4 linked regions of the Homo sapiens genome follow. The protein of the gene in region 3 interacts with the protein of the main gene of each other region in a pairwise test. Each region holds a gene or a part of one and is shown on either strand. Other genes may lie near its edges.

Region 1 (3,500 bases), on a different chromosome or scaffold from region 3:
CTCTGCAGCCCTTCCAGCTCTTCCTGGAGCAGCCCGTTGGTCTCTCTCATCTCCCTGGCAGTGCCACAAAGAGTCGCTCAAATAGCCACACACCCTAGGGATAAGGCCAAGAGCCCGGGAGCCCTGCCCCTACAGGGTCTGCACAGTGGGCTCCATGTGCACAAACCCAGACTCACTCGAGGCGGCTGCCCCATCCCCCGCAACCCCTCACCGCAGGTGCGCGCTCTCCTCCCGCAGCTGCTTCAGCTCCCGTTCCAGCCTAGGGAGCCGTACCAGCTCAGACTTCATGTTCTTCACAATCGCTGCATCCTGCTCTTGCAGGGACAGCTTCTGCTCCAGATCCTGATGGAGGCCAGGGACAGAGAAGAAGGGAAAAATGAGCCACGAAGAGACCTGGAGAAAATCACACGCACACGGCTAAGAGAAGGAAGCCGGTCTGCAACGGCTATACACACTGCAGGATCCAACCACAGGACGTTCTGGGAAAGGAAGGGGTTGTCAAGGGCTCAGAAGGAGAGAGGCAGGGATTGACTGGGGGAGCAGAGAGGATTTTTAGGCAGTAAAACTTTTCTGTGTGACACTCTAATGGCAAATATAGAACATTTTACATCTGCCCGAACCATACACTGTCCCACTCCAAGAGTGACCCTCGCATGACCCGTGGACTCTGCGTGACACTGATGTGTCCAGGCAGGTTCATCACCGTCACACGTGCTCCACTCTACCAGGGTAGGCTGTGTGTGTAGGAGCGGGCGCAGGGGGTACACAGGAGCTTTACCTTCTGCTCATTTTGCTGTGAACCTAAAATTGCTCTAGAAAATACCATCCATTAAAAATTAAAGTCATTGAGGTCACAAAGTTCCTTCGCTAAACTGCCCCAGGTCCTCAGCAGCCTCCATGCCTCAGGACTCTCCTGTGGGAGGCCTTCCTGGGCTGCACCAGGGGCCTCGAAGCTGCTTCCAATACTGAGCCTCAGCATCCACTCCAGGGCAGCTCTTCCCAGCGCCGACCTCCCAGCCCTCCGCGTACTGGGAGCTGGCATTCACACTGCACACTGCCGGGCTGCTGTGCTCACCACCTGCCCTCGGGGAGCTCTCCAGGAGCAAAAGTCTGTCTCAAGTCTGGTCCAGGATGGCACTCCATGGTAAAACATCCCACCCCTCCCGTGTCAAGCCCACTTCTGCCACTCTAGCAGCACGTGTGACAGCTCAGTCTTTCCAATAGTGAGGACAGGCTTTTCCCTACGGTACCCAGTCCCCTTGGGACACAGACAGCTGGCATCTGTGAGCAGCAAGTCACTGAACAGGCAGAGTATGAAACCACGACCAAACCAGACGGTCATTCAACAAACACTAACAGAGTCCATCGCCCTGCCAGCCAGAAAATCCTGAGAGGTGGACTGAGGGCTGCGAGGGGCCAGGGACCACCACCAGGAGCGGACATGGCAGAGGCCAGGCTGGGGGTGCCGGGCAGCTCTGCAGCCAGGAAGAGCTGGTGTGAAGCCTGGAGGTGAGGGTGCATAAGGGCTGAGAGGGCACGGCCAGAGCACAGGGTCTGGAGGCTGCTCTCCAGGCAACAGGAGGCAGGAGAGGGATCTGGAGTCAACGTCTCCCTGGCACGTCCTCCGCAGGGAAATGGCACAGCCTGAGCTTGAGTCAGATGCCCTGACTGAGACCCAGCTCCAGCTGTGCAACTGTGGGCAGCTTTCTCAACCTCTCTATGCCTGTAGCATCTTCTCACGCTCATCAGCACTTGACGTCATCACACACACGGACATTTTCTCTTGGTGTTTGTGGTCAGTCTCCCTCCTCTAGAATACACGCTCCCAAGAGCGGAAGCATCTGCCTCATTCACCATGGCATCCCTGGTGCCCAGCACAGTGCCCAACACACAGGGCAGCAGCTAACCTCACAGAAGGACCACGGAGCTCGGCACCAGCGCAGAAAGGCCGACAGGGGCAGGAGAGTCAAGGCCACCACAGGGATGTCCACAAGGCACTGACAGGGAGTGACTCACCTTAATCTGCTGCTCGTGGTCTGCTCTTGCTTCTTGGCTGGCCTGGAGTTCCTGGATTTTCTGATTGGCTTCCTGGCATTTTCTATTGAAAGAAAAATACATCACACACAGAAACAGGCATGCGGCAAGGCCAACAATTCTCCTCAGCCTGAGACCCGCCCCAGCACAGACCCACATACGTTCATTCCCACCCCAAGGTTCAGGACCTCCCACGGCACAGACCCCCCGCCCCCCGCCAACACACACTCCACTGCATGGGTACCCCAAGGTCCCAGGCCCCAGCCCCTGTGGGCTGGCTCTCAGGCCTCAGTCTGCTCATTCAGACGGGGTGCGTAGTGAGCCCAGGCCACCTGCAAGGACCTCTCCAACAGTGGAACCCACAGCTCTCACCTGCCTGCGGCAACCCCCAGCCCTGGTGCAGCTGCGGTAGGGCCCCACCCAGGAATGACCTCTCCTCTCTACTACGGAACTAGAACTCTCCTAAAACCACATCTGCTGATGGAAGGGTCCAAGTCTGCAGGAGATGCCCACAGTCTCCTGACTGCACCTCCAGACAAGGCTCTCACGTCTGTGCCTCGGCTCAGCCCTGTGCCTGGACATCCCTTCCCAGCCACGCCCCCTCCACCTCCAAGGCACATGATGCTGCCCTTTCAACCTAGCCCTCAGCAGGGTACGGCGGCTCAGCCTGGGATCCCAGCACTCTAGGAGGCTGAGGCAGGAGGATCGCTTGAGGCCAGGAGCTCAAGACCAGCCTGGGTTACAAAGCGAGACCGCCATCTCTACAAAACGTTTTTTAAAATTAGCCAGGTGCAAAACTAATCCCAGCTACTCAGGAGGCCGAGGCAGGAGAATCACTGAACCCAGGAGGCGGAGGCTGCAGTGAGCCGAGATGGTGCCACTGCACTCCAGCCTGGGTGACACAGCGAGACTCAATCTCAAAAAAAAAAAAATTAGCCAGGTGTACTGCACATGCTTGCAGACCCAGTTACTCGGGAGGCTAAGGCAGGAGGATCACTTGAGCCCAGGAGGTTGAGGCTACAGTGAGCCATGATTACACCATTGCACTCCAGGCTGGACGACAGAGTGAGACCCTGTCTCAAAAAATAAAGTAAAATCTGGCTCTGCAGGAGCCCTCTCTAAGAAGGAGGGGGAGGAAGTTGCTGCCCCCATTCTGCTCCAGGAACATCAGGACACTTTCTGGGCTCACGGTCCTGGCTCCAGAGGCCTCAGCATCTGCCCCTCTTGAGTGTCTGTGAATTAGGACAGCATCTGGGAGTGTATCCACATCCCACCCAGCCACCAGGAGAGAGGTGGGACGCATGCCCCCACACGTGACCCGACCCCCGACCCCACACCCTGGCCCCGCCCACTTGTGTTGCAGGTCCAGCTGCTCCTGCAGCTCCTGCTTCTCCGACTCCAGGCGCTTCACCCGCATCTCCTGGTCCATCACGCTCCACTGCAGTTCCGAGATCCTCCCCTTCAGT
Region 2 (4,139 bases), on a different chromosome or scaffold from region 3:
AACGGGACAGGTCCTAAAGAAAAGGGACGTCCACGGGTTCCTCCCCCAGCGAGCCTGGCCCAGGCATTTCTGGGACCAGCTCCAGAAGCCTCGCCCCCACTCGCGGCAGGTCTGACCCCATCCTCCATCGCCCCGCCCAGCCCACCTCTACCTTCGCCGCGCGGACAGAAGCCCCGCCTCTCACCGCTGCTCTTCAGCGTCCGCGCTCCGATTAGGCCAATCCCCAGCCGTCCGCCCCGACTTTCGACAGATCCTTAGAAGTCCCTGCCCCGCACGTGGCCCAGCCCGGGGATGTCTGGCTCCCCTTTTGCCCCCAGTTTGGCTTAAAAGGGTTCCTTCCCACAGCCTTGTGTCAGGAGCTCTCAGACGCCAGTGCAGCCCAGGCGGCCGGCCCGGGCTGTGGGGAGACCCCCAAGTGCGGGGAGGAGGTGTTGCCGGGGCCCTGAAAGCTTCCAGACCCGCTCAGTGTAAACCGCCTCGGGTTTGTGTCAACATCCGAGGCCGGAGACTGGCGGCGGCTGGGGACCGGCTCCGTCTGCGGGACGGGAAAACGGGAGGGTGGGGAATGGAGGATCCATGGCTAGGCATAGGGGTCCTTCGGGGGAGAACGCGAGAGGCCTCTTGGGGGTCCATGAGAAAGGAGGAGGGCCCGTCTGGGGAGGGACCGGAATGAAGGGCCAGAGGGGTGGCTGGAGGGAACCCACGACTAGCGCGGGGCTAGGTAGAGGCTGGGACTTCGCCACCCATACCGCGCTCTCCGCGCGCAACCAGCACCCTCCTCTCTGCCCCACGGCGTGAGGGGAGTGGATGCGTGGGGAGGGGGGACGCAGAGATGTGGACTGCTGACCAGCCACCTCCTCCCTCTCCCACCCAGCTCCTCCCCAGCTCCTCTTTGGCCCCTCCCAATTTCGGGTGGGATATGGGTGTGGGGGGGGGTCTCATCTTGTGACTCATCCCCTCTTCCGCCCCCACCCATGCTGGGGCCCAGGAAAGGAAGCTTAGAGATTCGGCTGTGGTTCTCCCGTTTCCATAGCAACGGTGAGGTTGTTTTTGAGAATCCACTTTCATCGTCGACCCTTTCCACCCCAGACTTGTAAGCCGGGGGCTGAGCCTCAGGGCAGGGGTGCAGATGGGGGTGCAGCCCTCCCGCTTCCCGGCGACTCCGGGAAGGTCAGCGCGGGCAGGCGGGGCGCGCTCCTGCGGCCGGGCCTCGCCGGCCACCCGGTCCCCACCTGAAACCCCGCCTGCCACTCCGCTCCAGAGGAGCCAATAGCCGTGCAACCTGCCCGGGATGGGGCGGGGCTTATGCAAATAGTGTCGCCTTCGGGAGGCACATAGTGATACAAGAGCTGGAAGGCGGCTCCGGCGCAGACCTTGGAGAGCACAGCTGCCGGCCCGCGAGCCAGCCTCGGTTCCCGCGGCCCGCCGAGGCTCGGAGCCATCCAGCGACCCGGCGACCGGCCTCAGGTAATGCGAGTGGGACCGGGTCCTCAAGGCAACAAACCCACCGGGCGGAGGCCCTGGCCCCCTCCCCCTCCACTCTCCCTTCCCATCCTCATGTCCTGCCCTGATTCACCTCCCTGACCCGTGGTTCCGCCTTAGGCGGCAGCAACTGAAGAGCCCACCCCTGGGCAGGAGACCCCCCACCTCAGTCCAGGCCCATGGGTGCAGAGAAGGAGGCAGAGCCGCCTACTTATCCCCAGCTCAGGTGAGAACAACCATTGCTATGGCCCCCAACATACACGCGCGCAAACACACATACACACACAGATGCACACACACACATCTGGGGGTGTGGTGGCGCTGGTGCTAGCTGGAGGCGCTGGTCACCCTCCCTCCTGTTTGGATATGGGTTGTCTGCCCAGCACCATGGCAAACTCCCACCTCCACGGATAGCCCCTAGCCACTTCTCATCAGGGAGCCCCTGCCCCCAAAGACAGCCTCCCCCTCCACAGAGCGCTCCCTCCTTGTTGTCCCCAGACACTGTCCCCACATCCCACCCCTCAAGCTGACAGAGCCCACAGCATACCTGAGGGGGGGACAATCCCCCTTCCCCAGTTTTTCTCCTCACAGTCTCGACAGCCCTCCCCAGTGGCCCCCAGTGCTAGGCAGAGGCCCCATATTTGGCATCTCTCATCCTGGCGGGAGGATGAACCAAAGACACCACCCCCAGCAGACCACCCATACCGTCAGTCCAGTTGCTGCCAAGGCCCCAACCTCCATACCTCCTCCCTCCCCCCTCACAGCCAGGCACCAAATCCTCTCATTCTGCCTGTCAAATGTCTTTCTAATTTGTATGACTATTTGCTCCCTCTCTCCCACCTTCCTGCTGCTCCGTGGGGACCTTGCCAAGGTGCCATGTGGGCTGTATTGCTCTTGGCCCTAAAGTGAACTATACCTGGAGGGCAGATGAGCTGGGTTCAAATCTTGTACAGCCAAAGTTTGACTTTGGCCAAGTCACTCCCCTCTCTGATCCTTCATGAAAATGGGGAGAGGTATAACAGAGAGGGTAGACTGGGTGAGATGAACTTGAACAGCCTTCTGGCACTGAGACACTCTGGTTCTATGGCTGATTATGGAAAAACAGGATCCTGAACCAAGAGGACATTAAAGAGAGGAGACCTGAGGGGGGCGGGGTTGGTTTAGAACTCACTGAAGACACATTCCTTCTTAACCAGCCTAGGTACAGGCTACCTCCTCCCACACATTCTCCAGGCCCCTTCTATTAGGAGTCCCTCCTAGACCACCAGCCCATCCTGACATGGACAGCTCCAAATTGTAGGTGGCCAGCTGGGATTACTCTTTGTTTGTCATCCCCTGCCTCTCATTAAGAAGAAGAGGGAAAAGACCTGGTTGCTGCTGCTATTGCTGCTGCTTGGGGAAGAGCAAAGGGAGGAGAGGAAAGAGAGAAAAAATCTCCTGACCAGGGAGCTATTGTCACCATGGCAACCACCTCAGTACCAGCTCCTCTGAAGCTGGGTGAGGGTGTGGGATTATTGCCTCCTTCAGTCCCTCCCATTCAAAGCCTCAGCCACCTCTCCATTCAAAGCCCACAGCCCTTAGCCCTCTTGAAGAAACCTCTGGGCACACTGGGACAATGGTTTTGTGTATGGGACAGTCCCAGCTCCTTCATAGCTGGAGGACAGCCCTCAAGAGGTAAGCAGAGGAGCCTGCCCATGTTCAGCAGGGCCACAGCTCCAGCAGAGCATGTCCCCAGCTGGGTTCTGGCCTTCACTTTGCTGCTGATGGGCTATAGTTGACCTGGGGTGAACCCTTCCTTCCCCTAGGTCTGGGTTCCATTGTCTCTGAAGTGGGTGTGATAGCAGGAGAACACAGATAAACAAAACAGCCTGACATAGATCCAGGGAGGAAGAAGGGGGTTCTGCTCCTCTTACGTAATCCACCAAGAGACATTCATTGAACATCACTGTGTCCTAGGCATTGCCACTGCGTCTCCACAGAGCAGTTCTGTGCAGGCACAGAAGGCAGGGTGGGAACCAGGGTAGGGGAGCTATAAGAGAGAAAAAACCCCTGCTCTCATGGGTCCCAGACTCAGTGAGGACTAAGCACTCACTGGGAGAAGTGAGTGCATAGGGAAAAGCACTTTTATTTTCCCCATGGGAAAAATAAACTTTTCTCACGCTTCAACCTGCTCAAAAGTGGACTGGGGCATATTGGAGGGGATCAACTCCTTGCCATTGAGCAAAAAGGTCTGGAGGATTTTTTTTCTGACTCAGGCAGGGGTTTAATGCAAAGACCTGTCTCAAATCAGACTGCATCCTGGAATTCTACAGCACCAGGTGAGGGTCAGAGGGCTATGAAGTCTACACGCCTGTGGGGGACTGACTCATGCCCAAAGTGCTGAGCTTGGGCTGCTGACTCTCCACTGTCCAGACTGGAAAAGGCTGATCATAAGGAAGCAGGCTTCAACCAGGCCCTGAAGACTGATTATAGTCCAGGAGAGAAGAAAGGATATTAGGGGAGAGGAAAATAGCTTAGCAAAGAGGTGAGGCGTGTCTGGCTGTGAGAAGGCTGGCTTGAGAGGAGTATGCGGTGGTGAGTGAGCAATGAGAGCTGAGGCGAGATAGGTGGGCACTTTGAGACCAGATTCTAGAGGATTCTAGAGTTTCAGGGGGCCC
Region 3 (5,102 bases):
TCTACCTGGAATGGAGAGCTTGTTGGATTATCTGCAAGTGCAAATATAAGCAGGAGTGTTAACCTTCTCTTCAGGCAGGGAAGAAAACTAAGGTCACCCTGGAAAGCATTATTTGCTGAGGTGTGGACTCAGTAAATAATAGTCCACTCCTGGCAAAAACTGAGGAGTAGATGAAATTCAAGCTCTGTGCTTCCCACCTTTCTTTAAGAGCATGAACTTTCCAAACAGATCTTTTGAACTCTCATGCTGTCCAGGCCCCGTGCTGTAACAGCCCAAGCTAGGCCTTCCATGGACTCCAGCCCCATCTCTCTACCTCTCTCCTCCAAAGTTGGCTTTGCCACATTCCAGTCCCATAGGACCCTATTCCCAGTGGGCTGTCACCATGACCAGAGGTCTGATAAACAAATCCATACAAAGTAGTTAATGGCAAGTAATGGTGTCACATGTTACTCTTTAAAAAGGTATGCTAGACCTTGGCCATTCATGAGAGATACACACTAAAACTTTTGCCAGTCTCCAACTCATGGATGCAATCTCCAAAGCATGTCATTTCCCCCATAAAAAGTCCATTCCCAGGCAGCACCATCACTTTGCCAAACTTTGTAGCTTTCTCTTCGTTGTAATCACTAGCACCAGCAGCTGGCTTAGAGAGGGAGCATTCTCCTCAAGGAATGCCCTGAGACATTTGCTCATTTTATGACAGGTTCCTACGTATGTGTTGACTACGAGCAGTAGACCACAAAATTGTGTTGAAAAGTAGGTGCTGGGCAATGCCACTCCTAGGTATATACCCCAAAGAATTAAAAGCAGGGACTTGAACAGATACTTGTACACCAGTGTTCATAGCAGCATTCTTCATAATAGCCAAAAGAGGGCAACAACCTAAGTGTCCACTGACAGATGAATGGATAAGCAAAAGAGGTATATCCATACAATGGAATTTTATTCAGCCATAAAAAGAATGAAGTACTGATATGTGCTACAACATGGATGAACTTTAAAACATGTTGAGTGAAAGAAATCAGACACAAAATATTGTATGATTCAATTTATATGAAATATCTAAATAGGCAAATCCATAGAGACAGAAAGTAGAATAGAGGTTACCAGGGGGTAGTGGGAGGGGAAAATAGGGAAACGGTGAGTTATTCTTTAATGGGTACAGAGTTTTTGTTTGGGATGATGACAAAATTTTGGGAATGATAATGGTTGCACAACATTGTTAATATACCTAATGCTACTGAATCGTACACTTAGAAATGGTTAAAATGGCAAATTTTATATCTATTTTACCACTATATATATATATGTACTATGTACAATATATGCATATAATACATCTCTCTCTTTCTCTTTCACACACACACACACACACACACACACACACTAGTAGATGTGGGGTAGGGCACCAGGCTCACTCATTGGTGAAAGGACCGGCCCCCACCTACTAGTCTCCTTGCACATGTGATTCACATCTGTGCCTCAGCAAAAACACAGTTTCTTACCAGTCTGAGTTCTCATGAAGTATCCAAACCATGAATGTTAAGTTTGCAAATGCATTTGTGCTTTTAATGGAGAAGGTCCCTTAATCCAAGAATGCCTATTCTTTGTCAGACCACTAGGCACTCAGGAAATAGTTATTTTAAATTACTTTGGGCTATGAAAGGACTTTTGAAGCTTGATACCAAAAGCAAAAATCACAAAGGCAAAGAATGACAGGCTTAACCACACAGAAACCCAAAACCGCTCTACAGCGAGTAACTCCATCCTCAAAATCAAATGGTAAATTAGTTGACAATGCGTTGCAATCTCTAATACAGGGTTTCTCACAGTGTGGTCTACATACCAGCGGTGCTCTGGGAGAGGAATTTTAGATGGTACATGGACAGAGAACTGAATCTTAAATAGTATGAACTTAGGCACTGCAGCAGGCAGCCACTCAAATCATGCCGTGTGAGTGGCCACCACCTCAGAAGCCAGGTCCAGGAATATACATTATGAAATTACTTGTTCTGAGACTCACTTAGAGAAGCACAAATAATTTTTTGCACAAATTTTTCTTGAAAACCTGATCTCTGAATCTATATCCTTCCCCTTTGTTACTATATTAATAGGGGATATTAAATGAATTAGCACACATAAAGCAATTAGAAATGTTTGCTATTTTTATCATTTTCTGAGCATTTATATATGGGAACCAGTTGGGGCCAGGTCAGAAGCTTAAAGGTAGAATCCTAGGGTTTTTAGAGCTGGAAGGGAAATCGGATTCAGAGTATTTCAGACCACACTAGCCAGGTACGCTCTGGGGTCAAAGGTAGAATAGAGCTGATTAAGAGGTTTTGGGTAAAATCTTAGAAAAAAATTTGAGGTTACAGCAACAGCAATCACAACGAATACTGTCAAAGCTCCTGTTACAGGTTGTTATACCTTACAGGTCAGAAAAATTAAGGAAGGCTCTTCAAATGTCAACTTGGGAAGCTTTTTCATATGCTACATTTAAATTGGAAACTTCTGCTGTTTGCCCAGAATATTCTATCTCCCTCCTAAGTTTTCCAGTATTAGAAGCATATTCAAATGACAAGGGGGAAGTCCCCTAACAACAGGGTGACCAACCATCCCAGTTTCCCTAGGACTGTTCCAGTTTGAGCACAGGCAGTCCTATGTCACAGGACTGGGATGGTTGGTTTCCCTACCTAATAAGGACATTTTGACCATTTGGAAAGGTTCTGAGCTCACATTTACCTCTGCTTCATAGACAATTCTTAAGTGTTACAAGAATTTCTTTAGCATTAGTTTAGTTACTGAGTGTTCTTAACAATTCTTTCTTCATAGACAATTCAGGCTCTGCTCTTCATTGTGAGGCATTGGGCAAGATACTTAATTTTTTCCAAGCCTCAATTTCCTTCTTTATAAAATGAAAATGGATGATAATAGTACCCATTTGGTCGGGCGCAGTGGCTCATGCCTGTAATCCCAGCACCTTGGGAGGCCGAGGCTGGTGGATCATTTGAGATCAGGAGATCGAGACCAGCCTGACTAATATGGTGAAACCCCATCTCTACGAAAAATACAAAAATTAGCCGAGTGTGGTGGCGTGCGCCTGTAGTCCCAGCTACTGAGGAGGCTGAGACAGGGGAATTGCTTGAACCCAGGAGGTGGAGACTGCAGTGAGCTGAGATCGTGCCACTGCACTCCAGCCTGGGCGACAGAACAAGACTCCGTCTCAAAATAAATAAATAAATAAACAAATAAATAAATAAATCCATTCCAAAGAGTTGATGTAAATATTAAATTAGATTATGCAGGTACATTGTGAATGTTCAAGAAGTGTTAGTTATTAATCTGTTATGGTTATTAGTTACATAATACAAGATTGAAAGGATGGTGTTTAAAATACACTTCTTCCCCAACCCAATTGTTTACAGGTACCATTTACATACCAACAGGCTGCATGCCCATTCTCACTGATTCGTATGTATATACACAGCACTATCAGGACTTCCATCAGGCTATGAGAGTTACTGCATGTGGTTAAAACGGAAGGAAAACAACTTTTAAACATTAATAAGGATTTTCTAGCACAGTATAAAGTTGTAAAATCTTTACAAGGGACCACGTCAATATTTAAGTAGTCATCCAACTGAAGAAACCTTTATTGAATATTGGCTGTATAACTAAAAGCCAAGGGAAAACCAAGCAAGTAAAACACAGCCCTACCCTCAAATTGCTTATACTCTTGTGTTCCAAGGAAACCAAGAACGAAGCTGGGAGCCAGGGACAGGTCAAAGCAGACAAACCAGATGTAAATCAAGAATGTGCCCTGCTCTTCTTCCTAAAAATATAGGAGCCCTCTTGGCAAAGGAATGGACTGCAGGAGGAGGGGTGGGAGACTAGCTTCTCCAGCAGGAGAGGCCTTGAAAGTTGACAAAGGAAAAAAGCACCCAACAGGAACCTGAAATGTCAAATCATTAAATTGAATAGAAGTAAAAACGATGGCTGAAGTATGATGATAGAAACCCAGGGAATTTAATGAAGTAACAAGGGATATGTTCACTTAGGAGAAGGCTGTCTACCCCAGATATTGGAGAAGCCCCATGACCAGCAATAATGGTCTTCTAGTTTGCTAATGAGCATGTCATACTGGGCAAAACCTAAACCGAATTCAGAATCCCCAGTCTCTAAGGTCCCAATTGTCAAGGAAAACAAGAGGGGATCAGTGGCTCATGCCTGTGATCCTGGCACTTTGGGAGGCTGAGGTGGGCAGGTCGCTTAAGCCCAGGAGTTTGAGACCAGCCTGCACAACATGGCAAGATCCCGTCCCTATAAAAAAAAAATACAAAAATTAGCTGGGCATGGTGGTGTGTGCCTGTAGTCCCAGCTACTTGGGAGGCTGAAGTGGGAGGATCGATGGAGCCCAGGAGTTTGAGGCTGCAGTGAGCTGTGATCATGCAACTGCACTCCAGCCTGGGTGACAGAGTGAGACCCTGTCTCAGGAAAAAAATAAATAAATAAAAATAAATAAAAGCAAGAGAATACTTTGTCCTCTTAGAACTATAAGACTGTTACCACAGGACCCTGTTATTCCCAGCCTTAGCGAAGCCTGAGAGCTTGCTGGTTAGCTCCTCACTGGTTTTGAACGCTGAGTGAGTTGCTCTGATCGAAGGAGGCAGGGTGCTCACACAAACCTTTCCTACAATTTGCGCTTCTCCCTCAACCAATACCTATAATGCCACCCCACTACATCTCCACCCTGTAGCATTTCCAGGCTTTGCCTAAAACCAAGAGTCAATAAACTCGTATTAGTGGAGTAGATGACAAAGGAGGTATTCCCTTTCCACAAACCCAAACAACCAGGATGCTCCCGAGGTGTGGCAGAAGGAAACACTTTGATCTCAGGCTTTTAGCCTCACACTTCCCTCACCCAGGTTTGACCCTCCTAGGGCCAGAACCAGAAGAGGCGCCCCCTCTCACACTTTCCTAAAGCCTGGAGTGGCAGTTTCTCTCCCAGTTGAACAAATGCAAATGCTACAAGCGCTCTTTCCAGGTTTTTCTACTACCCCTCCCCCACTGCCACTCTCCAACAGAGACAGGCGGGATCCTTA
Region 4 (3,500 bases), on a different chromosome or scaffold from region 3:
CTGATTTCCTGATTGCATTCTGAGACTCATGATGTTGGAGACATCAATCCCCATTACATTACTTACTCTTAAATTTTTTAAATTTTAGCCAATTCTCCTGAAGAAGTGAAAAACATTATCCACCCTTGATGTGTGACAAGAAAAAAGGAGGCGGTGTCAGATTCTTTACATACATTAAGAAACTCTGAGTGGAAAAGAGAAGAAACAGGAGGTGAGAGTGAGATCTGTGAGCTGGGAAATGGACTCCCTGGTTTATAGGGAAGCTCACAAGCACCTCAGTCACCTTCTTTGCTGGGCCTTAAATCAGGGCTGTTGGACAGACTGGCTGCAGGGGTTCCTTGGGAACCTGTGGCTCCCATATTTTCAGAGAATGCAGTAACTAGAGCCAGTGGGGCAAGGCAGGTTGTGGAGAGCAGGAAGCAGTCAAGGGGGTATCCTTATGAATGCCCCAGTGTTTGTGTCTGGTCACACCTGGAGAAAGCCCTGTGCCTTTGTTTGCGAAGCCCGGGCCAAACTCAGTTCGACGGTGGAGGAGCCTGGCATGCTGCAAGGTCCCAATGGGCGAGAAGCCTGTTTTGAGGAGAGAACGCCATATCCTAACTTTCCTCCTGAGGCTCGGTTTACAACTCTGTCTCCATTCCTTGTTAGAGTTCATAAAACCACGTCCACAATCCCCCTTTTTTTTTTTTTTTAACACAGAGCAGGGATATTTCTTTTCCTAATAAGAACATATAGAAATGAAATATAATTCCCTCAAGGCAGAAGACAGTGAGATAAAATTTCAAATACTTTTAAATGGATACTCAGAAATCATCAAATGATATTACCAAAAAGAAAAGACGGGTACTCTGGATTAGATTAGCCAAAAAATAAAAAGTCCCCAGGATGGCTTCAGATGCTGTGCATCAATGCATATTCCTTTCAACAGTTATTTGTGTGGTGCTCACAGCAGGCTGTAGAGGCTCATGCTCTAGCACCAGCTGCTAGCTGAGTGAGTGTCAGTGGTCAGTGAGCAATACTCTGCTGTCCGTTATGTGTTTACGTGTCACCATCCAAACCATTGGAGATATAAAGATAATTAGACACAAACCTTGCCTCCATGGTACTTACAATCCCAAAGAGGCAGACAAGTGTATGATAAAGATCACAACACCGTAGCAAGTGCAGCAGAAACCCGAGGTGGCTGTGACTGAACTTTGTCTAGAAAGTCTAGAGTGATGTTAAAGAAGACTTAACTTTTGCTCAATGTATTACAAGATGAATGGTTTACCACAATGCTGGAAGAGAGGACGCTGCAAATGAAGACCAGTATGGACAGAAGCAATGGAGGTGTAAGGCTGCTGGTAAGTCAAGTCTTAACTAAAAACTGAGGATGGAGGAATCTGTGTTTGGATTAACATGATGTAGAAGACTCAGATAAGCTTGCCTCCCAAGCAGGAATGAGGATGAGAGCCCTGAAAGGTGGAAATAAAGAAGCCAACTATGTCATGTGTGTTTGTGGGGGGCTGGGAGGAGTGTAAATGTCAAATCCCCCAACCAGTTTCTCTAAAATTCTTCTATAACGTGGTCACGAGGATTGGTTCCCAATTAGCAAGCTGTGTCTAGTTATCAAGAGTCACCATGAAGGTGAGTTCAATATGGCTTGAAGCTTAGACCATGTTGGGTTGGATGGATAAGAGTTATTAACAGGACAGGAAGCTGAAAAGACAAATTGAGATCAGACTATGAAGAACTCTGGGTACCATAGTGGAATAAGACTTTTTATTCTGTAGAATAATAGGATAAAAGAGACTTCTAAGAAAAAAAAATGGCATCTCTTGGTCTCTGTTTCCATGCCTTTAGTAAAGCTGAGATGAATGGACTAGACTATTTCCAAAATTATTCCCTGCAAATAAATGAACCCCCACATTCTACTCCTGTCTCCTATGAGCCTCTAATTCTGTCTCAAATTTATTCTTCACAATTTTCTGCCCTATAAAATAATTTTCCTGCTCACCTTTAAGTCAGTACCATCAATTAAAATATAAATGAAAATGTATTTTCTTGTATCTGGTGACATGCTTTGGCTCTGTGTCCCCACCCAAATCTCATGTTGAACTGTAATTCCCAATGTTGGGGGAGGCACCTTATGGGAGGTGACTTGATTATGGAAGCAGATTTCCCCCATGCTGTTCCTGTGGTAGTGAGTTCTCATAACATACGATGGTTTAAAAATGTGTGGCACTTCCCTCCTCGCTCTCTTTCTCTCCTGCCACCATGTGAAGAAGGTGCTTGCTTCCCCTTCGCCTTCCGCCATGATTGTAAGTCTCCTGAGGCCTTCCTGTTAAGCCTGTGGAACTGTGAGTCAATCAAACCTCTTTTCTTCATAAATTACCCAGTCTCAGGTAGTTCTTTATAGCAGAGTGAGAAATATAGCAGAGTGGTAAATAACAAATGCAGAAAAATTCAAGAACTCCATTAGTATTTGATGGTCATTGACATAAGTCTTGCTAATTTTCTAAATTTAAAGTCTCATAATGTAGGATTGGTATAGACTATAAAATGCCATTATTTGCATGTGCTCCTTTTAAAGGAAGAGAGGCATTCATTGGAACAGAAAAAGCAGGGATGACATACCAAGAGATTCTCTGGTTTGATGTCTCTGTGCACGATGCTGAGGCCATGGAGATACCTGAGGGCATTGGCTAAGTTGTACACCATGGCACTGCCATCTCTCTCAGTGTACTTGGTCGACGAAGTAATTGCATCAAAGAGATCTCCACCCTAAACGATACATAAAAGAACATATCAAAGCATCAACAGTGCAATCCTATGAAGGTAAGAAAGATGGCTCATTGGCATAAAGCAGAGAATGACACAAGTGCCACTAAAATCGGCGATTATAAATAATGAAAGTTATGAGGTAGCAATACACTTTTCTGATTAGGTCCTTCAAGGATGTTGTAAATTGTGGGACTAGGCACCAAGAAAATCTCTCTATCCTCTTACTTTGACCAATTCCATCACCAGAAAGAGCTCAGTTGCTGTTTCCATCTCCTCGACCAGCATAATGATATTGGGATGTTTCACTCGGCGCAGTATTGACACTTCATTCTCAATCAGGTGTTCCTGTCAAATGAACGGTATAGAGAGGAGATCAGAAATCACAGAACCCTCTGCTCTCGAAGGCCTGGAGGACAGCAAAACAAACACAGCCTGTGGATCTGATGCCAAAGAAAGCATTGCTCTTGGCACAAAGACAACTAAACCTGACCTAATTGTCCCTGTAGGGACAGGGTCAGTGTGAACATATTATTGACATTACCAAAAAGATACAGACTCCTAAACATCCCCCAAAAGGCTCCATGGTGCTTCTGTGGTGTATTAAGCATACTGTCTTCTCGCTTGTCATTATTTCTAACACCTTAAGAGGTTGTGATGCTATGAAAGCTTCAGCACACAGCTCTGTGCTTTGTAATTCAGCCAGAGCCACTTTTTGATTTCGGTATACACTCACAAAT

The links.
Region 1: the proteins of TSC22D3 (region 3) and MAD1L1 interact in binary tests that used the Homo sapiens proteins (3 or more experiments, as listed by UniProt).
Region 2: the proteins of TSC22D3 (region 3) and HPCAL4 interact in a two-hybrid assay, tested with the Homo sapiens proteins (one large-scale study listed by BioGRID and IntAct).
Region 4: the proteins of TSC22D3 (region 3) and DCLK2 interact in a two-hybrid assay, tested with the Homo sapiens proteins (one large-scale study listed by BioGRID and IntAct).

Annotation. Positions count from the first base shown.
Region 1 is NC_000007.14:2,215,946-2,219,445, forward strand, and holds part of MAD1L1 (mitotic spindle assembly checkpoint protein MAD1), read right to left. Parts: coding exon 3,387-3,500; intron 2,099-3,386; coding exon 2,017-2,098; intron 343-2,016; coding exon 212-342; intron 55-211; coding exon 1-54. UniProt on the Homo sapiens protein: Component of the spindle-assembly checkpoint that prevents the onset of anaphase until all chromosomes are properly aligned at the metaphase plate.
Region 2 is NC_000001.11:39,688,634-39,692,772, reverse strand, and holds the start of HPCAL4 (hippocalcin-like protein 4), read left to right. Parts: upstream 1-1,339; 5' UTR 1,340-1,467; intron 1,468-1,602; exon of another isoform or gene 1,603-1,708; intron 1,709-4,139. UniProt on the Homo sapiens protein: May be involved in the calcium-dependent regulation of rhodopsin phosphorylation.
Region 3 is NC_000023.11:107,768,360-107,773,461, forward strand, and holds part of TSC22D3 (TSC22 domain family protein 3), read right to left. Parts: intron 1-5,102. UniProt on the Homo sapiens protein: Protects T-cells from IL2 deprivation-induced apoptosis through the inhibition of FOXO3A transcriptional activity that leads to the down-regulation of the pro-apoptotic factor BCL2L11.
Region 4 is NC_000004.12:150,231,945-150,235,444, reverse strand, and holds part of DCLK2 (serine/threonine-protein kinase DCLK2), read right to left. Parts: intron 3,109-3,500; coding exon 2,989-3,108; intron 2,764-2,988; coding exon 2,617-2,763; intron 1-2,616. UniProt on the Homo sapiens protein: Protein kinase with a significantly reduced C(a2+)/CAM affinity and dependence compared to other members of the CaMK family.